Regions from separate parts of the Homo sapiens genome. Here all the other regions are linked to region 1. The links come from fine-mapping of genetic effects on gene expression. A gene starts in region 1. Each other region holds a variant in brackets. All regions are shown on one strand. Distances are between the middles of the regions. Region 1 holds the start of NHSL1 (NHS like 1). Region 2 has its middle 37 kb from the start of NHSL1. Region 3 overlaps NHSL1 (NHS like 1). Region 4 has its middle 92 kb from the start of NHSL1-AS1. Region 5 has its middle 46 kb from the start of NHSL1.

The links. PIP is the estimated chance that this variant, and not a neighbour inherited with it, causes the effect. A credible set is the group of variants that fine-mapping cannot tell apart.
Region 2: its variant is the best candidate, but not a certain one, in a credible set for the expression of NHSL1 in pancreas (GTEx, PIP 0.53).
Region 3: its variant is the best candidate, but not a certain one, in a credible set for the expression of NHSL1 in thyroid (GTEx, PIP 0.80).
Region 4: its variant is the best candidate, but not a certain one, in a credible set for the expression of NHSL1 in monocytes (Schmiedel 2018, PIP 0.54).
Region 5: its variant is the best candidate, but not a certain one, in a credible set for the expression of NHSL1 in esophagus muscle (GTEx, PIP 0.88).

What each region holds. Positions count from the first base shown.
Region 1 is chr6:138,495,947-138,502,388 of GRCh38, forward strand. It overlaps NHSL1 (NHS like 1), which reads right to left and starts at 3,548. Exons shown (of 8, transcript NM_001144060.2): 1 at 3,287-3,548; 2 at 273-425. The coding sequence starts at 3,344.
Region 2 is chr6:138,533,301-138,539,742 of GRCh38, forward strand. It overlaps a transcript of NHSL1 not described here. Among named protein-coding and RNA genes, the nearest start is that of NHSL1, 37 kb to the left of the region's middle. RefSeq lists an enhancer at 4,677-4,846. The variant G/A (reference allele first, on the strand shown) is at 2,859.
Region 3 is chr6:138,423,549-138,429,990 of GRCh38, forward strand. It overlaps NHSL1 (NHS like 1), which reads right to left. Exons shown (of 8, transcript NM_001144060.2): 7 at 6,163-6,295; 8 at 1-1,268. The coding sequence ends at 533. Among named protein-coding and RNA genes, the nearest start is that of MIR3145, 8.5 kb to the right of the region's middle. The variant C/T (reference allele first, on the strand shown) is at 3,764.
Region 4 is chr6:138,595,984-138,602,425 of GRCh38, forward strand. It overlaps a transcript of NHSL1 not described here. Among named protein-coding and RNA genes, the nearest start is that of NHSL1-AS1, 92 kb to the right of the region's middle. The variant T/C (reference allele first, on the strand shown) is at 3,584.
Region 5 is chr6:138,541,972-138,548,413 of GRCh38, forward strand. It overlaps a transcript of NHSL1 not described here. Among named protein-coding and RNA genes, the nearest start is that of NHSL1, 46 kb to the left of the region's middle. The variant C/T (reference allele first, on the strand shown) is at 3,160.

The DNA.
Region 1 (6,442 bases):
TGGGGGAAATTGGCCCCATGATTCAATTATCTCCCACTGGGTCCCTCCTACAACACAGGGGAATTATGGGAGCTACAATTCAAGATGAGATTTGGGTGGGGACACAGCCAAACCATATCAGCATGTATTAGGTTGTATTTATGATATCGTATAAAGACGTAGCATACTATACATTCAATAAAAGTAGAGCTGGTTTTATAAATAGATATCAAATTTATGCTCTCAGCAGCCAGTAACCCAAGAAAATAAGCTCACAGAGGATGCCATCTTACCCCTCAGTACTGATTTGAGGTTGAGCTTGGCTTGGCGGTGCAGGTCCTCAACACAGGGGGGTCTTGTGGTGGGAAGGAACACATTCTCCTGCTGGTGCCACGGGGCAGTGTAGTGGACTGTCCATCGGCTTTCCTCATCTAGGTTGGAAACCGCTATAGAAAAAAAGATAGAATACATTCAGGTGTCAACTTCATTGGCTACGAGTTCATTACATCATGATGTGTTTCCATGTCTAACACATCCACGGGTAAGGGCCAGCAAGGGAGCAATGGAGCAAATCCTAAATTAGTTTTAATCTTAGATTCCAGGGGTCTCGCCCACAGTGTTTTACTTATAAAAGAAAAGCTGAAAGTGTCCACCCTCCAAACAATGTTTTCATAGAATCATTTGCTCAGTTAACTGCTTCCCAGCATTTTAGGTCCTCCCTTTACTCCAATGTTTGAAAACATCTGACAGAATTGATAGAGACCTCCAATTCCTACTTAACCCCCCTCGCACACACACAACAAATAGCAGTTACTCAACTGTATAATGCCATCGCAACAGTAAATGTTAGACTGTCCTGATAGAAATGAATTTCCTACCAGGAGGTTTATAACAAATATTCTCCCTCTACAGCATTATTTAAAGAGCATCACTGTTATAAACTCAATTACATTTTTAAAAAATTAAGCGTAAACATTCAATTTACATGTAAATGACATAGCTAATACATGTGGAGACCCATTTGTGTTACAAAATTCTCTCTGCATTTCTTGCTTTCATGAAACCCTTTTATATTAAACATTTTTAAAATTACAATGCAATTGACTCTTCCCAACACAATCCAGTTCAACTAAATTTTCCCAGCACAGAAGAGACCAAGACATTAGAGGACAAAATAACAGGTAAAATCCTGAGAGTAAGATAAATCTCTACAATAATTTTTCTTTAAATCCTCGGAGGCTTGAGACCTCTCTAGTTCATTTTTCCTGACAACACGAGCTAAGTTGGGGCATCAGTGGAGCCCAAAATGAGGCCGACAGCACCAAAACAAATTCATCAACAATGTTTTAATACTTTCTATATACCTGCCATGTAACCCAGGCATAAGAGAGACTGGAAAGGTACTGGAGAAAGTCCTTGTGCTGAGGCATTTGCTTGAGGTAGCAAGTCTAACCCCTGTAAAGCCAGCAGATACTTGAATTGTGAGTGAGGAGCAAGTCTTCCTGACTCTGATCTATGCTATAGAGTTCACACTGGGCGTATCCATGTCCCCAACATAACATGTACCTGGAAACTAGACCATAAAATGAATTCTCAAAGTAACATGAGAACACACGCATAAACTATTAAATCCATTTGAGCACATCTAAAATTCACTAAACATACTCTATAGCACAGTTATTAGGGCTACTCTAAAGATCAAATGAACCAATATACATAAAGTACTTAGCTCAAGAAATAACTCAGGTAAAACATGGTTGTGGCAGGAACAGTAAAAATTATTCTAACGAGGCCCCAAACTTTGAACTGTCACTGTCTCTTGTAAACCTGGGCCACATGCTAGCGCTCATCTCACATACCATCTTTTCTGCAGCTACTAAATTTTACAATCTTATGAATCTGAACAGGATAACTCATTTTCAAAAGGACCCCACCTTCTCCGTAAGTTGCTAAATGAGAAAATAAACATTGAGAACTAGATATCAAGTTAAAAACAGAAATGTCCATTGTGCTTTCTGCTTAGTATTTGACAAAAGCAGTATGTGAATTTGGCACCTAGTATTTCATGTAAACTCTTGTTGAGCAAATGTTTTGCATGGTGCATACAACTATCAATCTTAATACACAAAATCCACAAAGACCTGACTTAACCCTCATTTGTGTTTCAGAAGAATCTAGCATTGGGCCAAACTCACCATATGTCCCCCCAAAGTGTAGCCAGAGTTCATCACAGTGTTTTGTGCTGATGTCCATTTATTTTAAAGACTGAGTTACCATACTTCAGAGTTAGAAACTATTGAAAATGGAAACTTTTCCTATTCGACAATTTCAAATCAAATCCAAGTAATGGCATTCGTGTCTGCACCATCAATCGCACCATCGGCCCCACTGCACAGCTACCAACTGGCTCCTATGAAAAAGTCTCTTCCCCTCGTGTTCCTCACTCTCGCCAGGGCCACTTTTAATCTGTTCATCCAAAGGCAGCCTTTAGCAAGGAGCTGCAGAAAATCAGCCCACCGTGCTGCTCTTTGTAGCTTTCTCCAAAGCTCCTCTTACCAATGCCCCTACCCATGTTCATTTATCCAGTATAAGTCACTGGTCCAAACACTAAACTAAACTAAAATAAAATAAACCACCGACTATGTAAAAACAAAGCCAAGTAGTTATAAAAATTATTATTTTCAAGAGAATGAAGAAGCACCTACATTAAAGAAATGTAAGTCAATGGTAAGTACACAATAAAGCCACATCACAAAAGTTCTGTACCTTACAACAATCACTGATCAGTCTAGACAGTTTGTGCTCGAGCTCTTAAATACACAACAAAGAGTGCCAGGGAGTTTCAGGGGATTATCTCCACCAGAAATATGTGATACATTACACAGAGGCTCCCTTACCTCAGCTGCATATTTATCCAAAGAATCAAAAAATCATACACTTGATATCAAGGGAAACATAAATTAAGTACAAGAATTTCCCCCCTCTTCAAAGGACTTCTTTTGAAAAGCACAGAAGAAGTGAATTCACTTAAAACCCCAATCATAAATAAATAAGACATGCTAAGATCACATAATACTGTCCTAGAGTTACAAAAGTCTGAGGTATTTAAACAACCTGGTATAGAGTAGAGTTTAACTCATGCCTATTACGCTGTTTCACACTCTAATTTCTTCACACAAAAGAACGAAGGACCTAAAACACACACATGGACACACACACACACACACACACACAGACACACAGGGACATATACACATATGGAAACATATGCACACAATAGGTAGTAGAGAGAAAAGGAACTACTTACTTTTCTTCTTAAAAAGTTTAATTAAAGACTTAATCTTTGCATTAATGAAGACCACCATTTCCAGGGCACCTACATAGAGCTTAGAAATGTAAATCACATTAAAAGCTCAGCCCAGTAGGCAGGTGGCAAGCTTCGTCCTTCTGCTACAGATTCTAACTTTTTCTTCCCCCGGTCTCATATCCTTAGACATCTGCCCAGGCTGATGTAACTGAGGTTGAGTTTATTGTCAGGCAGTTACAAACCATTAACAGTCCTTGAACCTGAAAAACTCCTACTGAAACCTAATCTTTAAGGCTGAGAGCAGCCAGTGACATCGTGCGCTGAAAGAAAGAGAAAGCCAATCACGGTTCTTATTTGCATGACAGCCACATCAGGCTTTCTGCCTCAGTGCCCATTCATTCAGTTTTCTCTCCAACAGATCAGAAGTTCCTCCTCTCTGAGCCCACAAAAATAGTGCAGACTTTCCTCTACGGAAGTCAAGATGAAACAAATGTGTTCCCCATTTCATTAGGCCCCTATGAACACCCAGATCTTTTACAGGAGCTGCCAAGTCTGACAGCAATTCCAGTTAATTCAGGGTATATGGGATTTGAACTGATTTAGGGGGGAAAAAAACCAAACTATTGTTTCCCAACCACGCCCCAGGCTCTGCCTCCGATACCAAAGGAACTTGTACAAGCAGTAAAACTTTAGAATAGAATCTCCAAGGAGCTGCAAATGATGACTTGGTTGCATTTTTGTGCAAATTAGGATGCTCTGTCTTCTCACCCTTCTTTGCCAGTGATTGAGAATCAGCATTGTGTGTTCCAAAGCATGATCTTATTTGCATCTAGCTGCCACAACAATCAAGAAAAAAAAAAATCCACCAAAAAAAATACAACTTCCCCACTCCAAATGATAAATTAGATAAAGTACCCTAATCATTTTAATCTTTATTTTATATGTAATTGTCACTTAGGCTCCTGGTTTTCAGAATTCCATAATCGCCCTTCCCTCAATGTTGTCTCAAACAAACATTATCTGAGTTACTCTTTAACTTGAATCTACCATCCAGAGTGCTGGTTCTTTTGCCCATTGGCAATTAACCACAGAGAACTAGGGAAGCACAAGTAGAGACAGAGAAATCAGAAACAGAGTATAAGAAGGCACTGAAAAAACATATTCCAGGGGTAAAGGGATAGGAAAAAAGAGGAGAATATAGATCCGGAAATACTATGACAACGGAAAAAGGAAAAGAATCTTCCTCACATCTCAGCCCAGTTCCACTTCATGGCCAAACACTTTTGAAACAATTTAGACAACCTCTTATTTCATAGCTTTGGGCCAGACTTATAACTCAATGGAAAAATGTAATAATCCACTAATTCAAAACATTTAGTTTATAACAAAGGCTCTTAGTCAAAGAATAAAATTTATATAAGGGGCTCTGTCTAGGGAAAGCTTTGAAATGATTCCTTCTCAGGTCTTTTTATGCCCTTTATTTTTTCAACAACAACAAAACAAAAGAACACATAGGGGAAAGCTTTGAAATGATTCCTTCTCAGGTCTTTTTATGCCCTTTATTTTTTCAACAACAACAAAACAAAAGAACACATAGAAACGTTACCATCTTATCATACATATTATCACAGATTTCCAATTTGTGTTATTTCATTTTATATATAGCTTTATTTTAAAGTAATTAAATTGCCAGATGGCAAATGAGAAACGACTGAGCCTGTAAGTCAGATTATGTGGCTGCCTTAAATTAGCGGGCAAAGTTCCCCTTTGGAAAACAAATTTATCTGCAAGAGTGACCTCGCTCTGCTCATTGCATTAGACACAAGGAGAGTTGTGGGCAAAAACACTCATATGCACAATCCACAAGTGTTTGAGGTTAAGTGTCACCATGCAAATGTCCAGTGAAAACAGAAATTGTTCTTTCAAGAAACTCTGATTATGCTCAACCCTCCATAGCATGTAGCTTTCCATGTGCTCAACAATGGCATCTGAATATAGATTCGTTCATCAGAAAGATAAATACCAGGCACCGATGCTAACTGCTACTCTTTCATTTCATTGGGATACATCATTGGACAAAATAGGTGAGATCCCTGCCCTCATGGAGCTTAAATTATTTGACACTGAACTACAATTTTGTGGTATATTAGAAGGAGTTGAGTGCAACAGACAAAATAAAAAAGTTAAGCAACATAAAAGGGGGTTTGAGGGTGGCCAGGCTGCAGCATCGTAGGAGTCAGGGTGGTCCTCGTGAAAAGTCGAGATTTGAGCAAAACCTTGAAGGAGGCAATGGCAAGAAAACAAAACTGTGTAATGAATCTCACTGGCTCTCATTTTAAAGAGAGAGAGAGAGATTCCTCAGGCTGTGAGACACATTTCCATCCCCCAGGACTAGAGAAGTGCTCTTTCCTCTCAGAAAATGAACTGTAGGAAGAATCTTGCATGGGGTAATTTCCTTTCTCACTCAATATTAAGTGTGATATAAAGTGGCCGCAGTTGTTCCTCTGTATCCATTCCAGGATGCCCCTTGGATACAAAAATCCTTGGATGCTCCAGTCCCTGATATAAAATACTGTAGTATTTGCATGCAACCTATGCACATCTTCCCATATACTTTAAATCATCTCTACATTACTTATAGTACCTAATACAATGTAAATGCTACGTAAGTAGTTGTTATACTGTATTGGTTTAAAAATATGTATTTTTTTTATTGCTGCATTACTTTTATTGTGGTTTTTTCCCCAAATATTTTTGTTCCATGGTTGCTTGAATCCACGGAAGTGGAACCTGTGGATATGGAGAGCCAACTGTACTTGGTTACACACGAGTAAGTGGTAAACCTGGGGGAGAATGCAGGCTTCCATCCCGGCATCCTAGGATGTCTCATCCTCTGTGCATTATTCCACACTGCCACATAACACCATAAAATCCAGATCTCCAGGAAATAAACCAAATAAACTATCACATTTCTTGCGTTCTATATTAAGTTGTATTTTGAAAGCACTTATTAATTAGAAAGTTTACCCAATCAATTGCCAGCTCTTACTTTACATCCTTGATATGAGCATGAGCACAGGGAAATGTTTTCATCATATAATCTGCATGCCTCAATGCTGTGGTTGATGGAAGAGCCGTATTCTTCTGGAACTGTAT
Region 2 (6,442 bases), 37 kb after region 1:
CGCCTGTAATCCCAGCACTTTGGGAGGCCGAGGTGGGCAAATCACTGAGGTCAGGAGTTCAAGACCAGCCTGACCAACATGGAGAAACCCCGTCTCTACTAAAAATATAAAATTAGCCAGGCCTGTAATCCCAGCTACTCGGGAGGCTGAGGCAGGGTAATTGCTTGAACCTGGGAGGTGGAGGTTGCGGTGAGCCGAGATCACGCCACTGCACTCCAGCCTGGGCAAGAAGAGCAAAACTCCGTCTCAAAAAAATAAAAAATAAATTTAAAAAATACACATTTAAATGATGATTTACTAAGAGAAATAATCTCATATTTCTGAAAATAATTTTTTTCTGTCTATGATCAATTGCCCATTCATGGGACTATGCATTGGAGTGTTTTTCTAAAACATTGAAAACCCAAGAGCCAGGAAAGTGCTTAGATAAAGGGTGTGTTTTTCCTTGGTGAGTAAATCCTTAATCCTTTTTAGTCAAGAGAAGTGTAGCCACTTCAGAGTGATGCTTGAGAAGGGCCAACAGGCAATGGGCCATTTTCCAGACGGTGACCTGCCACTTCTAAGACCAAGAAGCTACATGGGATGCTTATCTTCCTTCCAGTCACCACGAAGCTGAGACTCATTTGTTCTGAATGTTTAAATTTCTAGAAACACATTAACTTTTCTCCTCCTCTATGACCAGCTTCCACATGCTACAGGCCATTAATGATTGAAACTGTTTCATCAGATTTTTTGGTTGAGTTGCTACAAAAAATGAAACTCAGAATTAAAAATCTTTCTTGCTCTGCTAATTAATAGCCTGCGTATTTTCAGTCCCATTGAAAGTAGTACAATCTACTTTTATATTTTAAGCTATTCTCAAACAAGTCCATTTGTTTTCATAGAGAGTGATGGTTAAAGTCTTTTTACCCAAACTAGATTAAATATTAATATTTCATTCCTTTAATCAGCAATTATCTACTGGAATTCTTCTGGATCAAGTTAATGAACTTAGCCCTCAAGGAGCTTACAATCTAGTCGTCAAAGCAAAGGACCCTTGGTACATGACGACCCCACAAAAAAAGAGGGTTCAGGTCCCATAGAACGTGCAAATCCCACTCAGTGAGTTGGGTTGGATCCTACTCTCCATTTTAATAATGCTATGAAAGAAAAGGAGCCCTTTGAAAGGGTAAAATACCCTGTATTTACCAGCAGAGCCTTTTTCATAGAATTCATCACACATCAACCTCAGCACAACAGATATATGCATACAAATAAAAACTAACCTGCTCCAACATTTAAGTTAGTTCTCTAACTTCTACAGGCTCCCTGCTGTTTATTTCTAACTTAATCCCTATCAATAAAGCCATGGAAATCAGTTTTCCAAAATTCCAACAGAAACTCTATCAAACTTGGTCAATAAAGCCCAAAGGTAAATCTCTGTGGCTGCATTTAGTACACAGATTGCCACTTTTAATGATAAAATGAGATGGGGTGGAACGATCCTCACTTGCATTAAGGAAAAGATGGAGGGGTCTCATTAAAGACCATACCTTCTTGGAGCATCAAACAAGAACACGACTCAGCTGGGACTGTAGTTCGGCAGGGAAACCTTTTCCTTTTCTTCCAGACTAAAGGTTTGATGCAGCTGCAAGTTCTGTAGCTTAGAAAACAGACTTTCTCCTCCTAGGTTTATTTCAGGCCTGTGATTGATATTTCAAAAATAAAGAGAAATTGCCAAGACGAGCTTTTACTCCGAGTGAAATGAAGCTTTAAAGCAAAGGACTGGCACGATATCGCTGGTCTTAAAAGATCTACTCTGGCTACTGGGTTGAAAGTAGGCTATAAAGGGAAGCTATTATGATAATCCAGGTGAAATTCAGGCCAAGCAGGTAGCAGTTTAGATGGTAAGAGGTAGTCAGATAATGGGGAAAAAAATTAATATAGTCAATAGAATTTTCTGCCAAATTGAATGTAGGAATAAGAAAAAAAAGTAGTTGTTGGCTGGGCGCAGTGGCTCACACCTATAATTCCAGCACTATGGGAGATAAAGGCGGGAGGATTGCCTGAGCCCAGGAGTTCGAGACCAGTCTCGGCAACACAGTAAAACCCCACCTCGACAAAAATAAAAAAAATTAGCCAGGTATGATGGTGCATGTCTGTAGTCCCAGCTATTCAAGAAGCTGAGGTGAGAAGATTACTTGAGCCTAAGAGGTCAAGGCTGCAGTGAGCCATAATTGCACCACTGCACTCCAGACTGGGCAACAGAACAAGAAAACCCTGTCTCCCCTCCCCGACACCCCCTTACCAAAAAAAGAAGTCATAAATGACTTCAAGGTTTTTGGGATAAGCAACTGGAAGGGTGGATTTGCCACGAAATGGGGAAGTCTGCAGTGGGATAGATAGGGGTGGGGGACAGGAATTTTGATATGTTCATGAGGTCAGTTAGACATCCAGGTGAAAATGTGGCAGCTAGATATTCATATCTGCAGTTCAGTACACCAAATACCAGACTGCCTTACTGTAAAACAGCAAAAGACTCATGACATTGACTAGGAATTATCGTAAACTGAGAATTTTCATTGTGTGGTGAGGATCTGCTCTGGCAGAGAGAGCCTGTTCTCTCACTTCCCTACAGGGCATCCATACAGACTGATCTAATTTTAGACATGACACTGAGCTAGTTGCTGGGGGGCCAACGTCAAGCAAGAGACAAAGGAGGGTGGCTACTCACACACAGAGGTTGAAGGTAGCTTTCCAAAATTAAAAAGAGGGCAAGGGAAAATTAGAGTAAAGGAAATCTAGTCAAACATAGTCCAAAACAGCAGTCTGGGAGAAACCTGTGGTATGGCATGTGTTAAAGGAATCTCATTTATTTT[G/A]GGGGCTCCAGTTTTTCCCCAGCTCATAGACACTTTATCTTTTGCAGATAACACACCAACAATGGATCCATTCTATGGTTTCACAAAGGTGAGTGAGGACTGGGGAGCGACTAAGACAAACTCATTTTCAGCCAAGTGTGTTATCGTAAGTCAAATAACATACAAATAAGGATTTATGATATTTGCCATACCAACCAACATTGACTTTCTGTGGCAAGCAGAAACGACACTGGATGTTTTAGCATTAAAAGTTCTCACTGGACACGGAAAAGCAGCCATCTCTATAGGAGCAGTCTTGTAAACCCAAACCTAAAAGTGATGGCAAACATCAAACTAATGTTTTGTATTTAAATCATGCTTACAGACATCACAAATTTAATCATCTGCATTCAATCTTTTCAGCATTTATAGATTCCGTGGTTTTGGAGAGGGACATATGTCATCTTTTTTTTTTTTTTTTTTTTTTTTTTTTTCACTTTAAGCTCTGGGATACATGTGCAGAACGTGCAGGTTTGTTACGTAGGTATACATGTGCCATGGTGGGTTGCTGCACCTATCTACCCGTCATCTAGGTTTTAAGCCCTGCATGCATTAGGGATTTGTCCTAATGCTCTCCCTCCTCTTTCCCCCAACTCCAGACATATGTCATCTTCTGAGTATGCTACTTGTTTTAAACTTCCATCGTAATTTACTGACTGACAATTCAGGTGGACAGCTCTTACACTCCCTGGCCTCTTCTCTCTAAGATGAAAAATAGGCTGCCAATTACTGACAGAAGAAGAAATACAACGAGAAGAGAAATAACCCAATAATTAAGGGGAGCTCATTCCCAATTCCTCAGTACAGCAGTCAACCTAAAATAAGGACATTTCCACCTATATAAGGATAAAACCATCCACCCATAGATTTCTCTCTTCCTGATGTGGAAAGAGTTTGTAAAAATAAAACAATTTTATGAAAGGCACCATCTTGAGCAGTTCAAATCTTGTTTTAAATTTTTATCAAGTATTTGTTCTGCCAGGAAACATTTCCAAAAAGGAAAGGTTTTGTCTCAATTGCTGTGGCAGCAAACACTTCCGTTGGAGCTGTTAGAGCGGTATCAGGATACTCTCACTGGCTTACATAGCTTTCAAAATATTTGTGTTGCTACCACGCTCCTTTGCCAATATATGTGACTTGTAATACTTTTTTATTCATCTGGATGTATTTATACAACTGTGTAGGTCCAGAAAACTTTTTAAAAGTTGGCGTAAATATGCTGTGATGAAAACTGAGAAATACATCTGCCTTTCTCACTATGTAGAAATACTACATTTGCAAATTAGGGTACAAATCAGTCTTCACTTTCAAAGACCAAATTAAGCCCTTAGAGAGGTCAAATTTAAATAACATCACTATATATTACAGAGAAAATACCAGCATCTTATGTAAGCTTTACTTAATCCTCAATATTTTATTAGGCAGATCCATTCTCAGAGCTAAGGAGATCTTTACTCAAGGGATAAGATGATATGATTAACGGATAGAGTTGGGATTTCTTGAATATTCTTTACAAACCTGTGTTAATTATTTTTGTTATTTGGGTCATGATTAGCAGGGAAACCCTTTACAAAGTCTCTGGCTTTGCTTTGTTCCCAAAGTCAATCTTGGAGAAAGAACCGCCAAAAGCTGGCACAAGCAGTAGCACCTTTACAGTGGGCAGGAAAACAACCAGAAGTCTTGGGGCTGCAGAGATCCAGGCCGGCGAGAAGTCCAGAGCATCAGACAGGAAGAGTTTCCTGGGGGTAGGAACAGTGACTGGCACATGGTAAGTGCTCATCAACACGCAATGAAATAACACACCCCAAATTCTATCAAAATATTTTGGTCAGAGTTGATGAACTTCAGAGGTATTTCAAAATGTCGACAAATCTTGGATACCCTTTGACATATAAATTAGCCACCTTGGGACAATATTGATCTCTTTTGCATAAAATACTGGGTATTCTGTTACAGCAAAACTTTTCCAGGAAAAAAGAAGGGACTTGAGCTTCCTTTGTCCTCTTAAAATTAGGAAAGGGTCTAGATAAAGCAAAAGTGCAAATCTGTAGGAGATGGCTAAGGAAGGAGAGATAGAGTACCACCACTGGGGGCTAGGTGTGTTCATATACTTCATTTTCTTTTGCCATGCCATCCCACATAGCTAACACCAAGGCATTTTCTGAGGCCCCTTTCTCATTTGCTCTGTTTGGAATTAGAAAAGTTGCTACTCTCAGTGTCTGGTATAACCCAGTTTCCCCACGTGATCTTCTACCAAGTCAAGCATCCTCTGGGCATCTGCCAGGCTCGTCAGCCAGGCTCCTGTGGTCCTTTGCCTTCCCTTTCCTAAGAGACCACACATTAAGTCACTGTTCATCCTCCCCTGAACCTGCTCCCAATGTTCGCGCCCTCGAGAGAGCAGAGGCGTCTGTCCCAACTTTTATTCTGAAAGTTCCAGCAACAATGAACCTTGCACAGTTCACTCAGTGAAACAAAATAATGAAGAACATAGATGGCCTCTTGTGGTCAGCAAAGCCGAGATTTTCTCTTTTGCTCTCAAATGCTGTCTTGCAAAATTTCACAAGTACAAACATATGTTATCATCTGACCTTTTGAAAACTATTCTGTGTATATATAAATTCACTTAAAGTGTACTACAACTTGTGGCTCCTAAAGCTCACTTTATGCTATTTATATCTTTTTGTTATAAGAAGACATTCCAAAGAAAAAGTGGTGATGAGCACTCACATTTCTGTTATCATGCACCCCCTCCCCCAAGTTAAACCCACAGTCAAGTCACTCAGGCCTTTTGTTTCAATGGATCTCAGGGTTAACCACATTTTGACAGTAACAACAACAAAAAAAGTTCTAAATGTAATCTAAGTTAACAAAGACTGATAAATGTCACATAATCACCAGATAGAAGATGAACACTGCTGACATTAAATCAAATAGTTTGTCATTCTGTTGGCTGTCAAATTAGGATCTCTTAATTTTAAATGCAATTGCTACATACGATTTTATAAAATAATTAATGTTCCTAATTTAAGACTACCCATCTTCCACCCCGCATCCCCAATACCATATCCTGCCAAACTGTTTAATCATGCAAAATCTATTAATTGCTTAAAGACCCTCAGGTTGTTTTCAGCAGTATTTTCTTCTGATGTTTAACACAGAAAAATACATACCCCTGCATACATCTGTACCTGGTTAATGGTGGTGACATGATGTCCTGCCTTTATCACACGGGTCCATCTGCCTTGCCTATTAACTATCACCTTTTCTAATGCATGTGTAGACTACTGATCACATCCTTGTAACTAGAAGGAGTTCAATATGGCTTAGGTGTAATACTGCTCCCCCAATGAGCCATCACAGAGGAGGACAGCTAAGGTGAGGTAGGGGGCCTAAAAAAGACAAACATGAAAATCAGCAAATAAAGGAAACCAGAATAGGTAGAAATGGAACAGGAGATATTAAAATGAAGAGTTTAACTGAAATCTTAGCTAATGCTTTCAGTAATTCAAGTCATTTGATTCAGTTCCACAAAATTACCCAGAGCA
Region 3 (6,442 bases), 72 kb before region 1:
ATATCTGTGTGTTCTGTGCATTAAGAACCAGCAACTCTACTGCCTCTTTCTTGAAGTAACATCTTCTCCTTTCTTACAAAACTCGCTGATTTCTATAAACGTAATTCTCTGAAAGCAATTACCGCCTAGACCAGAGGACTCCGTTACTCTACCAAGCTTAAGTCTGGCTTGCTTTCTTCTATTTCTGTACATGTTGTTTGTGTATATGTGTATTTTTTAAAAATTAAAAAGTGTGGAAAATGCACACATACACACCCAGCATTTAGCAAAAAAAAAAAAAAAAAAAAAAAATCTTCCCCGGGAAGCACTTTCAGAAGTTTAAGCTTCTACTTGTTCTTAAGCCACAGGGCAAGTGCCAGGTGAGTCCTAAATAACCGTTCACTCACACTGCAGGGCTGGCAACCCCGGGGCCCACAGCACAGAAGCAGAGTGGGCTCCCCGGGTGAGCCAGGGAAGGGCGCCTAGCAGGCTTCCTAGAGTGCTGCATTGCTCGTCTCCCCCCGTGTCACCTGGGAGAGTTACGTTCTTGGCCCTAACTCTCCTCGCTCAGAGAACCGCCACACTGTGGGGAGGGCTCTCTGCCCTCTGCACTGGCTGTCCCATCCACAGGGCCGGGGGCCTGGGGCTGCAGGGAGGCGGCAGGCCCCTCCCCACAGAGCAGGCCGCCCTCGTCCATCTCCTCCCTCGCCAGTCCGTCCAGGGAACATCCCTCCGCAGCGCCCAGAGCCCCGCGGGCTATGCTGTCCACAGGCTCCACGGCTTCCCCTTCTCCCTCCGAGATGACGGTCATGGGGCTGCTCTGGATCCGGTTCCGCATGCTGTACCTGCTGCTGGCGGCAGAAGGCGGCGTTCGGCTGCGGCCGTACCTGGGGCCGGAAAAGGACAGACTCCGAGGCATCAAGCCTTCGTTCTTGGCCCACTCCTCCTGCGCCCTTCTGTTCTTGCTTGGGGAGCAGCTTGACGGGCTCTCGGGGGCATCTGGGGAAGGCTCTGACCTCGACCTCTGGAATCTAGGGTCTGTGTTCTTGAGCATCTCTGCTGCAGACATGCGGGCGCTGGTGTCTGAACGACTGCCCTTTTTCAGCAGCAGAGCTTTGAAGTTGTCACTGCTGGTGCTGCTCTTTCGGATGCTTCTCTGAATCGACCCCACTTGCTTTGGAGAGGCCAGGCTTGGGGCAGCGCCGGTGGGTGTCACGGGCGGGGAGGGAGAATGGTTTCGGGAGTGGTCATCATCTGAATCTCTACGGCCGAGGACTTTCCTTTTGGATCTGAGATTTAATAACATTAAGAAAAAGGTTAATTCCCACGGGACCACAGGCTGTCAGCCACAACCACTCTGCTCTTATCGCATCTTCAGGTCACCATCTACTTAAGATTCACTTTCAAAAAATTTATTTTTGACTGGGCACAGTGGCTCACACCTGTAATCCCAGCATTTTGGGAGGCCACGGTGGGAGGATCACTTGAGCTTAGGAGTTCGAGACCAGCCTGGGCAACACAGTAAGACCTTATCTCTATTCAAAAAAAAAGAAAAAGTAATAAATGCATAATTTATTTTATTTTTTTGAGACTCACTCTGTCGCTCAGGCTGGAGTGCAATAGCGCAATCTCAGCTCATTGCAACCTCTGCCTCCCGGATTCAAGCGATTCTCCCTGCCTCAGCCTCCCAAGTAGCTGGGATTACAGGCACCTGCCACCATGCCCAGCCCAGCTAATTTTTGTATTTTTAGTAGAGACGGGGTTTTGCCATGTTGCCCAGGCTGGTCTCAAACTCCTGACCTCAGGTGATCTGCCTGCCTCGGCCTCCCAAAGTGCTGGGATTATAGGCGTGAGCCACTGTGCCTGGCAAATAATTTATTTTTAACTTTGGAAAATTTCAAACACCCACACAAAAGAGAACAGCTCACTGCAAGACCGCATGAGCCCATAACTCACCTATGATAATCATTAATTACGGTCACCCTTCTTTTGTCTCCACCCTCCCTATTTGAAACAAATCTTAGACACTATTAACTTACTTTGGACAGGACCAAAAGTTTTAATAATGGCCAGTTTTCCTTGATCTCTCCTAGACGGGCTGATCCGGAGTGAATTTCACATGCTGACCCTCCTTTCTTTCTATGCTTCCTTTTCTTGTTCCATGCCAGAATATCCCCTGTACTAAGATGTACCCCACTCCAGGTCCTAGAACAACTCCTCAGCTTCACATTCTCAGTTATTCTAGAAGTTGCCGTCAGACCAGTCTTCCTCAGCTCTTCCAGGACCATGTGCCAACTTCTAAAATCCAGCCTTCCAGAAAACAAAGGCGAACCCTCCATGCCAGACCCTGCTTCATGATCGACTCAGCAAACCTTGCACTGATCAAGAAAATGTGAGGGGTGGGGTGGGGTGGGGAAGACGAAGGGGCAATCAAAGAAAGCTGAAGGTTTCCTGTAGGTATTTCTTGTCCTGAGTCTCTGAGAACCTCACTGTTCAATGTGCTTTCCATTGCCAGTGACAAAGAGATGATAAAGCCAGTGAGCCAAGTGGCCCCTTGCTGGTCTCTTCATGACAACAACTCAGTCTGTGTCTCTTAGCTAAGTGCAGGAGAACTTGCTTTAAGGAAACTCAACACAGTTAATAGAATAAAGACGTGGGTATATCTCTTTTCCTGCTATAAAATTGTAGAATATGCAGCAGGGAAAGGTTGAGAGTATGATATCTGTACACACAGATTAAGAGTTGAAACCAGACTCTTCCCACCTCTCGCTGTGTGACCTGGGACAAATTACCCATGCATGCCATGCCTCCTCACTTATAAGATACCAACCTCACAGGTTTGTGAAGATTAAGTGAAATAAAGAAGCTAGCTACATAACTCCCACTGCTAAAGCTTCCTTGTTCTGTCACCTTGGACAAGTTAACATTTCTGACTGTGTATTTTTCCTATCACCAAAAGGGGAATAACAGTATATAGGTCACAGTTTGTCAGTACTCATGAATGCAGTGATAGCCATAATTGGTCAGGCATAGAGCAGGTGCTTAACAAACCTTTGAATGTCACATAGAAAATGGATTTAGTTTTTACGTGGCTTACACAGCAAGACAGAGGGCAGCATGGGCCCATGCTGGCTGCCCTGGGCTTGGTGTTCCTGGCGTCATCTCCATTCTTCTGGTCAAAAAGATGCCACTAAAGCAGAGGCTGGGAAATGGTAAGGACCCAATACAGGGTCTGAAGGGTGGCCAGAGTGGACAGGGCACCAGACTCTTTGGGACTGCAGAACATGGCCTACCATACAGGTTTCATGGTCCCACTCAGTAGTTAACAAGAGCAGTCTGCCCTGATAAGAGTTAGGACCGGCTGACAAAACTACAGACATCCTAACATCTCGAAACTGTAGAGCTAGAAAAGACGTTAGAAATGGTCTAGTCCAACCACTTTGGGTTTCAGAAAAGGTAACTGAGAAAAGGTAACTTGTTAGTATGACAACTAGGACTTGAGCTTATAGCACATGGCCTCACCACTTACATGGTCTACTCCCCAAAGCAGCTCTGCTCATTTCATTCTTTTAGGTATTGGCTGGTGACTTAATTTGTAATTTAGATTTTAAACGGTGAGAGTATGCTGAGATCCATTAAACAAGTCACAACTAAACTTGAGTAAAACTATGACCTTTAATTGTAGACATAGAATTAAGAAAGAAGATGGGGTGACCAGCCTGAGCAACATGGTGAAACCATGTCTGTACTACAAATACGAAAATTAGCCGGGCATGGTGGCACA[C/T]GCCTATAATCCCAGCTACTTGGGATGCTGAGGCAGGAGAATCATTCGAATCTGGGAGGCAGAGGTTGCAGTGATCCAAGATCGCGCCACTGCACTCCAGCCTGGGTGACAGAGTGAGTGAGACTCTGTATCAAAAAGAAAAAAAAAAAAAGGAAGAAAGATGGGATTTTATGAAAGCACTGTCATCTCTCAAGAGCAGGTGCCCACTAAAATAATTAAATCTAAATGTACAAATTCTTTGCATATACATACACAACACACACACACGAATATGTATTTTTAATGAAGAGAGCTATAAAAAGTGCTTAAACAGTTAACACTGATTTTAAAACTAATTACTTCAATAAATATAAAAACTTCACACCTCAACTGGTGTTCTACATTTTCCATCTGGCTTTAAATCTGAAGCGAATTAATTTGCATTATAAAATTTGGAAGCTGTGTTTCAACTTAGATATTCTTTATTTTAAATTATGAGCTTAAGCGCTGAAGGACATAAAAATAAAGCCCTAAAAAAGCACAGACAGTAGATGGATTTTTACTATGTCTGCTAATTTATTCTCAACGCTACAACAGAAATTAGCATATGTCCTCACTCTCTCTCTGCAATCCATTCCTAAGGCCTATTTGGCTTTGACTTCTCTCATACGTGCACTGAGTAACACCAACTGACCGATTTCTACATCTGCAGTCGATGTAACGTCCTAGTAAGAGAAACAACACATTTTTCGATGCCTTAAGAAGGTTGCCAAAATATAGAAGAGGCCTTTGGCATATTTTTGGGAAAAAATATGCAGTAATTTGGACCCACAACAGTTGGGTTTCCTCACTGGAACCAAGTATCGAGTACACAGAACAACCAGGCTACGCAAATCTTCTCTGTGGATGGCTATTATAAATAGACAGATATGCCTGTATATTTAGCAACCCAGTGCATTCCATACTAAATGAAATACTCTGAGTCTTGGAAGAATCTTCTAATGGTTAAATACCAGTTGGTTTCATTTAATTCAGGAAATATTTATTGAGTGCTTCTTATGTGTCTAGCGTGGTTAAGAGTTAGAAACATCTATGGGAACTTCTAGAATTGCCACTGAAGTTTCAAAGGATGCATCATTTATCATTTCTCTGTTTTGAGAAATAATTGGACAACCAGCTACCTTTTCACTTCTAATGAGACTGAAGAAACCAGTCCATGTTAAAAGGGGCAGTCTTTAGGATCTATTATACCAACACTAGAGGAGCGACGTAAAGAGCGTAATTCTTGACAAGAACATTAATTCACCGGCTTCGTTCCCCCCACACCAAGTTAGATGTTAATGTGTTGCATGAAGAGTTTCAGGTAGGTACAGCACTATGTTTTTCATCTTATGCAATAGTCTTTTCAGGGAGAGTCCAAGAATTGGGAAAGCAGTGCTGACATAAGATCATTCACACACAGAATCAAATGATTCTACAGGATGCTTTGTTTCAGGAGGTTAAAAAAAAAGAAAGGATCTTCATTCAGGGCAAAATAAGGCCTTGGCAGCATAAGGACATTCATTAGAGTTACCTGGAAATACCGTGGTAGAGAAGTCTAGAAGGAAGCAAAAGGTTTATACAGCATTACGGCTTAACGTAGTTGCACATATACAGTCATCAGCTTTTACGATGACACTGTGTGGGAGTAGTCAGCTGTTTCCAATCAGAAAAGTGATGCAGTAAGTAAAACTTCAGTGCTAAATCATATTTACTCTTAAAGGTGACCACATATAAAAAGTGTAACAGTTCAGGCCATTACTTTGAAAATTTTACCCTTTTTGTTTGTTTTTAAACCCAACGATTTCTGATGCCAGTAGATGGCACTAGTGGTATATTAACAAGCATAAGTCATTCTTTTGCTCCCGCTTAAAGGGCCGTACTCTTTTATAGAAACACTTAAGCAGCCAAAGAAATTGCTCTGTATAACTGTGGTTTTTCTGTAAAATGAAAAAAATTAGAATAAACTAAAACATCTTTAGGAAGAGAGTCCCATGGAGCTAGTCTGTGCATCCTAAGTCCACAGAACATAGCATTCCTCCTCCTGACTGCACTGTCAGTCACTTTAATCCGACTCTTGCTAATATACTCTGTCTTATGACTGCCACACTGCGCTCCTTGCCAGGAAGAGCAGCGCCTACCAGAACGTATCACATTGAGCCACTGTCCCCAATGTCATAAAAATCAGTGAGACAAAGTAAAACAGAAATTGGAGCCAGAGGAAATAAAACTGTAGAAACCCACTAAAAAATCAACAGTAAAGTTAAGGAGTTATGATTGGGTGACAGAAGAAACCTCAAGGAAGAAAAGTAAATTGAGGTGCTGCTTGGAAAGAAGGAATTACACAGTAGATTAAAGTCAGAGGAAGGAGTTTGAAATACCTGTGAATAGCTGCAAAAAGGTCTTCTGTGGTCCTGGGTCGACTGGGGGTCATTACCTCATCATTCCCGTCTTCCTTGAGGAAGTCACAGGCCTCTGAGGATGAACCGGCTGCGTTGGTCTCCGGCACCCCAGCTACAGAAGAGCAGGCAGGCATACAAGACGCACAAGTGACTGGAATTTCAGTCCTCAGCCAAGCTTCTAAATATGCTGCTTCCCTGCCATTCCCGACAATGTGAGAACCACAGGGAGATGCCGTGGGTCTGTAGTTTGATAGTTTAC
Region 4 (6,442 bases), 100 kb after region 1:
AACCCCAAGAGAAAAAAAGGCCATAAACCCTACTTGGAAGCTAAAACCAAAAAATATCCAGGATGAAAGTATGTTTTCCTTTGCAGGTCTTATGCAAAGGAAAAGGCATAGAAAGGTAATGGTCTGAATGCCTTCCAGTAGTCAATGGTCGATCCAAGGAATGCAAAGGGGCAGAGGAGGCAGAATCTACCTCTGCCTGGCAATGGAGTAAACCTAGACACGCTGCTGAAACCCACTGGACATCAGGACTGAACAACGAAGAGGTTAAATTACCTCCCCAGGGCTCTCCCAGCATTCCATCCAGGGTTCCCATCCACCAGCACTGACGCTACTTGGCAGTTTTGAATAAACAATACAACATCTCAACTATTGTTAAACTACAATGGGAGGCCTCCAGCGTCATGTGGAAATTATTTTTAAAATGAAAGCTTTTTCATCAACTGCATGAAAAAGCACTTAATAAATCCAGAAACAGTCTAAAAGGATTATGTGGACAAGTCAAAATGTGATTTTGATGGACTAAGTGGATTGCTGAGACACATCATGACATTTAAAACCAAGTGCAGAAACTGAACTGTATTTCATTTGTTAAAACGCTTAAGATTATAAAGGAGTGATACATTTGGCAAGGTAGCCAAGGTTCTTGAAAGAATCAGCAGCGCCGCAAAAGGACATCGAGGAGCTCAATGCAGCTAATTTAAGCAGACCTGCTCCTGAGAGGTGAACCAAGCTTGGTAAGTTTTTTAAGTTCACGTCCGTTTCTCACCCACATTCAATTGGCGGGGGTGGGGGGGAAGTTCTGAAAGCTTCCATGAGATAATCCTTTAAAATAGTCTCTAGAGGCAGCGGCAGCAGCAAATTATTCATTCCTACCTTGCGTGAGTTAAGCGTGACAGAAAAACTCTCTCAAGCAGAGTTTGAAGTGCTCAGGGTTCCCGCCTTGCAATCAGAAGTTAAGACCTACCAGGAGATTGAGATCAGCCTGGCCCACGTGGCAAAACCCTGTCTCTACCAAAAAATATAAGAAATTAGCCAGGTGTGGTGGCGGATGTCTGTAATCCCAGATACTCAGGAGGCTGAGGCAGGAGAATCGCTTGAACCTGGGAGGCAGAGGCTGCAGTGAGCCAAGATCACATCACGGCACTCCAGCCTGGGCGACAGAGTGAGATTCTGTCTCAAAAAGAAAAACAAAAAGTTAAGACCTGCAAACAGCGAATAGAATACAAAAGCCTAATTCAGTGCTGGCATATGAAGCATCAATCCATAAAAATGGCTGGTTAGTTTCCGAAGTTTTGATCTGGTGTCATATAGCCTAAAGAACAAAGAATTTACAGGAAATGATTTTAGGAGCCTGGAAATTTTAATTCCATCTCAGATACTGTTATTTCCTTTTAATAGTAAAATCTACGTAACTATTGATTTGACAAGTTTTTCATTTGGCTGCCTGTGCTATTAATCATCACGGAACTTTAGTCCAAAATTCAAATCAAACATCACCATACACGCCTCACTTCCAGGTCCCGGGTACATGTTGTTCGTTTCTGGTTATTCTAGTGTAGACTCCTTGCTTACTTTGGAATTTTGGCAGGAATTGTTCACCATTTCTGAAAAATCATATCACTGACCACCTAACCGCTTGTAGTGTTTGAGTCACTAGCTTTTCATCATGGTAATTCCACACACATGTAAGCATCCAACGGTTTCATTCCATCTTCCAGTAAGTACAGTTTTGTGTGAGCAATGAATATGAAAAGGTAAAAATGGCCTTCTTTAATTTCTCCTTACATTGCAGGTAGGACATTATATTGACTTTTTAAGCATGCATGAATAGATGTATTATATTGGCTATGTGATACTCATTTCAGGGTAGAAAAAAGATAATAAAAATATTTCTTATGACTGAGAAGCACTGACCTACAGGTTATGCCAGCACTTCCCCAGTGACGATGATAATGTCATCAGTGACCTTGATGATGATTTCCAGCAGAGAAGGCGGTGCAGGTGAAACTGTCCCCCACCTTAAAAATCAGCTTTTGGCAGGGCACAGTGGCTCATGCTTATAATCCCAGCACTCTCGGAGGCCGAGGCAGGAGGATCATAGGAGCCAGGAGTTCAGGACCAGCTCAGGCAACATCTCTACAAATAATTGTAGAGATACCCCATCTCTACAAATAATAATTTTTTAAAAAATTAGGCCAGGCGTGGTGGCTCACGCCTGTAATCCCAACAATTTGGGAGGCCGAGGTAGATGGATCACTTGAGGCCAAGAGTTCAAGACCCGTCAGGCCAACATGGTGAAACCCTGTCTCTACAAAAATACAAAAATTGGCCGGGCATGGTGGTGGTCACCTGTAGTCCCAACTACTTGGAAGGCTAAGGCAGGAGAATCGCTTGAGCCTGGGAGGCGGCAGTTGCAGTGAGTCAAGATTGCGCCACTGCACTCCAGCCTGGGTGGCAGAGCAAGACTCCATCTTGGAAAAAAAAAAAAATAGCCAGATGTGGTGGTGCACACCTGTAGCCCCAGCTACTCTGGAGGCTGAGGTCAGAAGATGGCTTGAGCCCAGAAGTTTGAGGCTGCAGTGAGCCATGAACATGCCACTGCACTCTAGCAGCCTGGACAACAAAGCAAGACTTCATCTGGAAGAAAAAAAAAAAAAAAAAAAAGCAGCATTTTTCTTTCTTCTAAGAACTACTAAAAATATATGTGAACATAGACCCTTTCTCCACAATGCTCATAGATTTGGATTTGCTGACCAGACTAAAACAACGTCCAGCGTTTCCTCATCTCTTTGTGGTAGGGTGGGTGAAGCTAAACAATCCCACTAATACTGAATGCTGCCTTCATTCAAAGACGACTGCATCCTCACACTCTTAAGTACAATAATGAAAATGAAATTAAAGTAAATGGACTTACATGTATTTCTCTTTAATTCAGGTTCACCCATATGTTTCTAAACATTAGACTGCAAAAAGTGCAAGAGTCCAAGGTCAGAGCTTAGGGCCTGGAGATCCATCAGATTCCCTGTTTAATCATCAGCAAGTCACCTACTCTCTGTGTGTCCAAGTCATCTAGCTGTAAAATTTGGATCCTATTTGTCTGTTACCTCTTGACCCAGGCACAGAGTATAACCTAAGAAAACATTCTGAGCTACCTAATTGTTTTGGATTCTATTACATATTTTTTTCAAAACAAATTCTACATAATTTAGTGTTTTATGGTAACCAGTACAATATAAAAAAATGTAAGGCCAGGCGCAGTGGCTCATGCCTGTAATCCCAGCACTTTGGGAGGCCAAGGTGGGTGGATCACCTGAGGTCAAGAGTTCGAGACCAGCCTGGCCAATATGGTGAAAGCCCATCTCTACTAAAAGTACAGAAATTAGCTGGGTGTGGTGGCAGGTGCCTGTAATTCCAGCTACTTGGGAGGCTGAGGCAGGAGAATCACCTGAATGCAGGAGACTGAGGCTGCAGTGAGCCGAGACTGCACCATTGCACTCCAGCCTGGGGAACACAGCAAGTCTCCGTCTCAAAAAAAAACAGAAAGATTTAGAACTCTTTAAGGTCTTTTTCTCCTTATATAACA[T/C]ATGCAGAAATAATGGTGCTATTGAAATTAGAATGGACCAAGTGTATAACCCAGATACACAAGAAACTTCCAGTTTCTCATTCAGTGCTTGAGATACCTTAAGATGATCAAATCACAAATGCTCAGTTAAGTCCAATCAGATCTCAAGGCAAGATCTCAGGCAGGGTCAGCTTAGTACCTATAGAAGGCATCAGAAAGTAACTTTCCAATGTCACCTAAATGCCTTCCCTGTTGGTGCTGAGAGATTTCAGGATACAAGGAAGAATGAAGTACCTTTAAAATGAAGCAGGCCGGGCATGGTGGCTCATGACATGACTGTAATCCCAGCACTTTGAGAGGCCGAGGCGGGTGGATCACCTGAGGTCAGGAGTTCGAGACCAGCCTGGCCAACATGGTGAAACCCCATCTCTACTAAAAAAATACAAAAACTAGCTGGGCATGTTGGCATGCATCTGTAGCTCCAGCTACTAGGGAGGCTGAGGCAGAAGAATTGCTTGAATCCAGGAGGCAGAGGTTGCAGTGAACCAAGATTGCACCACTGCACGCCAGCCTGGGCAACAGAGCAAGACTCCATCTCAAAAAAAAAATATTAATTAATTAATTAAAATGAAGCAACACAGAGGTATTTTAAGGTCCACTCAGTGCTTTCTTTTCTGTTCTTTTATTTTCTTTTTCTTTTCTTTTCGAGACCAGTTCTCACTCTATTGCCCAGGCTGGAGTGCAGTAGCACAATGATGGCTCATGGCAGCCTTGAACTCCTGACCTCAAGGGATCCTCCTGCCTTAGCCTCCTAAGTAGTTGGGACTATAGGCATGAGCCTGGCAACCTTCCTTCAATTTGAACTAGCAATGCCTACTGCAAAAATTTAAGTGTTTATCAGCACTGTAAAGGGTCATTAAACTTTAGGTTACTGAGTGAAAAAACCAAAGAACATTCTTTCCAAATGCTTTTAAACTTTTATTTTACCTTTTACTTTGTAACCAAAAGAGAACATTGCTCAAAAAAATCAATTATAATCCTTGCTTCCCTGGGTTTAAGCCATTTGTTTTTCATGAAATTACTATCAATTTAAATGAAAAATAATATTAATACCTTTTAAATTCAGAGCTATACTTAAAATTTTCTTAATGTCGTTGCTAAACCAACACTTAGATCTTACTATCCCTATTAGAGCTTATAGTCTGGCAATTATAGGGATCAAACACTTTAATTTGTGAGAGAAGAAACTCATGTTTTAAAATAACCCTAACCTCCAATATTTCAACATGTTCTTTAGAAAATTCATCCCACAAAAATGGCCACTTCATTCTGTAACATGATATATCTACAAAAATCACTGTGTGTCAGAATACAATAACCACTTGGAAAGGGCTGCCTGCATTTCTAAATCATGTGTAAATCATTTGAAAGTATTTTCTCATAATGATTATGAAAGCATTAAATTCAATAGAAAACAAAGGATTCCATTCAAATGTATGTCCCTTCATTTACTTTTTAAGGTACTAAATGTATAAAATAGAATCTGGATTAACTGGAAAGAAATGAACATAAAATCTGGTTCCACTATAAATCTGAATCACTTATCCCAGAACTTTCTTCTAAAGTAAAACTCACCAGGATTGTTGGGAATCTTTTGATTATACTCCCTGGCCTGACTTTATTTAAATAACTCTTTAATTCTGACATAGCAACCATATTCATTGTTATTTTTTAAATCTGTTATGTTCTCCAGTCCCAAGCTAAACCAACACTTAGATCATTCAGGAAATGTAAAACACTGCTGGCAATCTGTTAGAAAACCCTTTAACCTTTTGTTACACATTCAGCACCATCCCTAGACACTTGTGTGGCTATTGCTCAATTGCACCTGTTATGCAGAAAACTCATACAAGAGGAGTACTATTTTAAAAAATTTACTCTTAGGTGAATCTAAAATGATTAATACTGATTATAAGAGTTTTTCTTGCCCGGGCACGGTGGCTCATGCCTGCAATCCCAGCACTCTCGGAGGCCGAGGCGGGCGGATCACAAGGTCAAGAGATCAAGACCATCCTGGCCAACATGGTGAAACCCTGTCTCTACTAAAAAAGCAAAAGTTGGCTGGGTGTAGTGGCACGCACATGTAGTCCCAGCTACTCGGGAGGCTGAGGCAGAAGAATCGCTTGAACCCGGGAGGTGGAGGTTGCAGTGAACCGAGATCACGCCACTGGATTCCAGCCTGGCGACAGAGCGAGACTCCATCTCAAAAAAGAAAAAAAAAGTTTTTCTTAAATCCAGCAACAGTATCACAAAAACTCAAGAATTTATTTAATAACAAAAACAAAAAACTAAGGCTAAAGAATAAGAAAATGTACACACTTTAACTTTTTCATTGAAAGATCTATCAGACTGCAAACCTATAAAGCCGATAAGTTTATCATTATTTCACAGGACTACAATGAGATAGCAGCATACAGAAAAATGGTAACTACTAATTAAGCTGGGATTTTTAAGATGTGAAGATGAAATATCAGGCTTATGTTTTTAAGCTTGTTATTTTGATATCACTATCAATTTACTAAAAGTTGTGTCAAATTTATAGAATAATTTGCAGGAGAATTGATATCTTTACTATGGTGTGTCTTCCAATCCATGAAATGATATGTCTCTCCATGTGTTCACGTCTTTGATTTTATCCATCAGCATTTTGTAATTTTCAGCATACAGATTTTGTATGTTTCATTAGATTTATACCTAAGTATTTCCTTTCTTATGTGCAAATACGGTTATTGTTTTCTGTTTTTGTTTTTGTTTTGAGACAGAGTCTCACTCTGTCTTCAGGCTGGAGTGTAGTGGTACTATCTCAGCTCACTGCAACCT
Region 5 (6,442 bases), 46 kb after region 1:
GGGTTGAATAGCGTCCTCCCAAAATCATGTCCGCTCACAACCCTGGAATATGACCTTATTTGGAAATATGGTCTTTGCAGATGTAATTAGTTAAGGTGAAGTGATATACTGGATTAAGGGTGGACCCTAAGTCCAATAAGTGGTGTCCTTTTAAGAAAAACATCTGACACAGAGACACAGAGAAACACACAGGAAGGAAGGCGGTAGGAAGAGGGGCAGAAACTCAAGTGATGCTACCGAAAGCCAAGAAATGCCTGGAGCCATCAGGAAGTGGAAGAGGCAAGGAAGAGTCTTTCCTGGAGCCTTCAGAGGGAGCACGGCCCTGCCAACTCCTTGATTTCAGACTTCTAGCCTCTAGAACTGTGAGAGAATACATTTCTGGATAAGCCACTCACTAAGCAGTAATTTGTTATGACAGCTCTGGGAAACTAATGCAGATTTGTCTACTAACCAGTGCCAGTAGGACAATACTTCACTACCAGTCCACAATTAGATTAGTACAGGAAATGAGATTAAATGTTTAAGAACTTTTATAGCTGTTTGACAATGTGGTGATATCACACAAGCACATGATTTTGTGTTTTACAAAACATCAGTCTGTAATGGTTTGGAAATTTCTTTTAAAAAGTCTTCACCGAAGTTAGAGAAGCACTGCAAAGATAATTAGTATTTATAAAGTTAAAGCTGATGTACCATAATTAAGAAATCTACATTCAGAACTATTTCAGAGAAGTGTAATTATGTTCCACGTAGCTTTAGTAGTAAAAACATTTTATTCTAATTTTTATTTATTCTTTAAACATTTTTTTCGAGACAGGGTCTCACTCTATTGCCCAGGCTAGAGTGCAGGGGCACAATCATGACTCACTGTAGCCTCGAACTCCTAGCCTCAAGCAATCCTCCTGCCTCAGCCTCCCAAGTAGCTGGGACTACAGTTCCATATCACCACATCTGGCTAACTTTTTAATTTTTTGTGGAGACAAGGTCTCCCTATGTTAGCCAGGCTGGTCCCGAACTCAGGGCCTCAAGTGATCCTCTCTCCGCGGCCTTCTAAAGCATTCGGATTATAGGCTTGAGACATGGCACCTGGCCTATTCTACGTCTTAGAATAATCTGTGAATGGTACACATGGTAGTTTGCTATTAATCATATTATTCGCTATTAATCATATTATTTGATTAGCCATAATTCACTTCCCAGACCATAATGGATCACTTGCTACACAGTGAAGGAACGTACCATGCCTTTGTTAGCCACAGAGACCTTAGCTGAACTTCGCAGAACATCTTCACAAAGACTGAGTGCTCAAATGTTGCACATACAAAATGCAGTTGGGAGAAGCTGATGTATCTGAGATACTTCAATAGCAAAGAGTGATTGTAACTATATAAGTTACGATAGTGACAATAATGAGAAAGATGGCATCCTTCTTCAAGGAAGGCCAAATTGACAAAAAGCTGAGCAGACCTGGCTTCAGAAAAGAAACAGTCTAAGTAGAGAAAAGGAAATCCTGCATCAATGTGGGAAGCGATCTGATTTAAATATTTTCTTTCAGCAATTACAAGAAACACACAGGAACATGATTTAAACCAAAGGAAGAGCAATCATGTTTCCTTTAAAATCAATGCTAATCACAACCACATATGCAATAGCCCCTAGGACCTTGGCTAGCCACAGACCAATGAATGAAAGCCACTTTTCCAAAGTAAGAACACAAAGCATCAACAAGTAGCTCTTACTATTCTTCTGCTTAATCTCACTCACCCTTATTTTATCATGGGCTTGCTTCATATGTAGGGCAAAGGACAACTTAAAAATCATTATTGTAAATCAACAAGCTATAAGTCACAGGAAGAAAGTAGAATGTCAACTGTTTGTCCTAGCTGCCGGGAGATCAGAGAGTAGGCTTTAAAAGGGTGCGATTGTGGATTCCTGATTAGAACACACACTTCAGCGTAAAAGCACTTAGTTGTCATCACATGCCATACGTTTGAGTTTTTAAAATTTTCTGAGTTACCACAGAAACTAAGAGTCCAAGAAAATGAGAGATTCTTTAATAAAATGAAATGGCTGTTATGGGAATAGGTGGAGAAAAATATGTTGAAGCTGCAGATGTCCTACCCAGTAACAATTCCACAACCGTATTCAATTAAAAATTGTAAACCTTAAGCTATCATTGGATTGTAATGATTTCAACTGCACTGTGGAAATTACACTAGGTAGCATGTACCTTCATCCAATAATACCACTGACTCTTCATACCTAAACATTTTGTAGAACAATTTTTGGAAGAAACAGTGTCATGAGAGCTCATAATGCCTTTCATCTAAAATTATTTTTCAGAAATACTTAAATTCATGTCAGCCCATGACTCCTTGGAAATCCACTGCAACTAGATACTCTCTGTAGTAAGAATTAATTGAATGCTTGAGGACAGAAAAATGTGATGTTCCTTTTTGTTCTTACCCCTTCAATTTCACCAAATTTGCACCTACTATATAAAGGAATATCCCAAACACCAAGTTCAATATTAAAGACTGGTAGGTTTTAAGATGTCAAAATAAGGTTAAAATTGCAAAGCCTGGGTCTACAGAATCCACGTCTATACCTCATGAACAGACTTTGAGGACAAAGGAGCAATCCACAAAGCAAATAAGCCAGGACCACTTTATTTCCAAAACTTGAAAAGATGTCAAGAATTTCCCATCAACAGAATGACATACACTGAAAGATATGAACAGAACAGTTCCAAGGAAATTCATCTCCCCCTCTACCCCCACCATTTCAACAATCACATAGACAAACACACTCTCACATGCCTACATTAATTACATTGTAATAAGAGTTGGAAGAAAAATAGAGTTGACGGAAAAAATAAATGCCTAAAGAGAGAAAATACTCCTTGACTAATCAGGGAATGACGACATATACTCATATAATCACCATCTTATAGTACTTAGGAAGTATTATAATCCATATGTGGCCAGAACAAGAAGTATGTTCTTTCTTTTCTTTTTTTTTTTTTTTTTTTTTTTTGAGACCGAGTTTCACTCTTGTTGCCCAGGCTGGAGTGCAGTGGCGCGATCTCGGCTCACTGCAACATCCAACTCCTGGGTTCAAGCAATTCTTCTGACTCAGCCTCCCAAGTCGCTGGGATTA[C/T]AGGCACCCGCCACCACGCCCAGCCTAGAAGTATGTTCTATAGTCAAATTAATTTCACTCCTAAGTTCACAGAGTAAAGCTTAAAGCAATAGAATCCTTTACCCTTTCTACTCCTTCTAACCCTTACATGAACAACTCCTTACATGAAAATTTCTCTACTACTGCTGTAAACTATTCCTATATTTATTGAGTTGATTTTAAAAACCTTCTTTTAAACTTTTAGCTACTTTTGTCTATAACAAAACACACACAAAACACATTCAAACACAGAAATATCCTTTCTGTCTAGAAGAGAATTCCATCTCCCCAGCAGGAGGTCTTTCTTCCTGTTTGCAACAAAAAAGAACAATGACTTTTTCACTTTCATACTTACAAAACTCCCTCAAACTTTGATTTTTACTGGAATCAGCTCTGTGATTTAGACTCTGATGCTAAATGACAATCTTCCCCAAGTAGAACTTTGCCACCCAAATGGACACGAAGTCCCCTCACCTTTCAGACAGAACATTCTGCAGCAGTTCCATGGAGGGGCTGTGCTCTGTGGTCTGATGAAGCCTGCAGTGCTAGGCACAGCTGTCTCCCAGCCCACCTCCTCAGCGCTCACTGCCAGAGAGCGGGGCGGCCAGCCAGCGCCTGTTACTCCAGGAAGCCACTGCCCAATCCCCAGCCTGCTGGGCTGTGCTGCTGACACCTCCCTATCTCTCCTGGGTTATTTCACACCATGGAATCAGCCTGCAATCATCTTGAAAGGGGAAAGGAGCCAGGGGTTAGCAGTCACCGTTCATATAGTCCAGTGCAGATCAGCCCAAGGGCGAGCCCATTTGTTTGTGCTTCTCTCTCAGCATTTTCCACCACAGCGGATGCAGCTCTTCACGTGATCAACAACACAAAAAAGAAATCACTCAATTCAGTTTAACCTTTTGCTATTAATTATGACTTACTATTCACTGACTTCATTATTCCTTTTCTGTTCACATGCTCCCCTTTTTTTTCTAATATAGAACACACCATATACTGGTACATAATTAACACTGCACATTATAATAGGAAACTTTGCACTCTGTTGTCTGAGTCTACGTAAATGAGTGAATATATGTGAAATGCTCTTTCAGTCCCAGACAAATCATAAGCACAAAGTAAGTGCTATCATTACTACTACATACTGCTATTTAAAAACGGGGCGGACATGGTGGCTCACACCTATAATCCCAGAACTTTGGGAGACCAAGGTGGGAATATCACTTGAGCCCAGGAGTTTGAGACCAGCCTCGGCAACACAGTGAGACCCCATCTCTACAAAAAAAAAAAAAAAAAAAAAAAAAAAAAAAACTAGCTGGGCATGGTGGCATGCACCTGTGGTCCCAGCTACTTGGGAGGCTGAGGAGGGAGGATTGTTTGAGACCAAGAGGTCGAGACTGCATTGGGCCATGATCACACCACTGCACTCCAGCCCAGGCAACAGAGTGAGACCTTGTCTCAAAACAAAAAACAAACAAACAGAAAACAAGAAAACCACTTGAGTATTAGGATAAAAATGTGAAGCATGTTACACTTCTATGGCAATGTCATTTTTTCAAATGAGGAAACAAATGCAGCATTAGAGTACGAGAATTTCTAACTGTACTGTGGCTGTGATCAGATCAGTACATTTCTTCCCCTCCACTGGAAAGCTAAATTCACTCTGGCAAGTTCAAGGTTACTTGACTGTGGACTCTCAAACACAGGTGGAAAGTGGCAGAAGGAATCTTATGACAGACCTGATGAGAAACAGTCCACAAATACTGCCTCAGGAGCACCCTGCTTGAAAAGTACCATCTGAACCCTAAGTGGCCCCGTGGTCCTTCCCCACAGAGACGTGAGTCTCCTGGCTCAGGAAGTGGCCATTGTTCACAGGACCCGTTGCTGTTTGCAGGTCTTCCTTTTGACTCCACAGGATGCAGGAAACTGACTCACAGAACCAATCTATCTATCTGTCTGTGTCCTGGGGTGCTCACTGCCACACAGTAAGGATGCTCTATGTTCTTTTGGTTTTCAACATACGGTGCAGCATATCCCAGCTGGGTTTCTGCTCCCTGTCACCATGAATCACCAATAGCACCTGGGTAATAAATATGTTGTCTACCATAAGGAAGTCACTGTACTAGTTTCTATGATCACAAGAATATATAAGAGGTCTCTAGCCAGAAGCTAGTTAGGATTAAAAAAAAAAAAAACTGCATGGGGAATGATGAACAGTGATATTAACGCTTCTTCTTCTTTTTTTTTCCCCTGAGAGGGTCTCACTCTGTTGCCCAGGCTGGAGGGCAGTGGTGTGATCTCAGCTCACTGCAAGCTCCGTCTCCCAGGTTCTCGCCATTCTCCTGCCTCAGCCTTCCGAGTAGCTGGGATTACAGGCGCCCGCCGCCAGGCCCGGCTAATGTTTTTTTGTATTTTTAGCAGAGACAGGGTTTCACTATTTTAGCCAGGATGGTCTCGATCTCCTGACCTTGTGATCCACCCGCCTCGGCCTCCCAAAGTTCTGGGATTACAGGCGTGAGCCACCATCCCCGGCCTGATATTAACTCTTAGAACAGAATGGGAGGGAACCTCATAGCTCATTTCATTTGTGTAAACCATGAGGTGATTGATTCACCTAACAAACAAGATCAAAACCAGACCAGCTGATTAGCCTCTTCCATCTCACCACGGGACTCTCTCCATGGCTGATCTGAGTTATTCTCTGTCCTCTCCTGTTCTGAGTAGTCTCTCCCATGTAATTTACGAATTACAGAGGTATTCCTGAAAATATTTTCATGGGTTACATTTAACTTTTCAAATTGTACAGAGAGAGAAAGGAACTCCTACCTTAGAGACTTAAGACTTTTGAACACAGGCTAATGAGACCGAGTCTCACTCTGGCTGGAGTGCAGTGGCACGATCTTGGCTCACTGCAACCCCCACCTCCTGAGTTCAAGCAATTCGCTGCCTCAGCCTCCCAAGTAGCTGGGACTACAGGTGCCCGCCACCATGCCCGGCTAATTTTTTTTTGTATTTGTAGTACAGACAGGGTTTCACCATCTTGGCCAGGCTGGTCTTGAACTCCTGACCTCGTGATCCACCCACCTCAGCCTCCCAAAATGCTGGGATTACAGGCGTGAGCCACTGCACCTGGCAGTTTAAGCCTTTTTAAACAGAGATGACTTTATATGCTGGAAAGTATAGTGGACTGAAAAGTAAAGAGAATCTCATTCCAGTCATATCTATATGACTATCTAGTTCAAGTCTGTCCAACCTGTGGCCCACA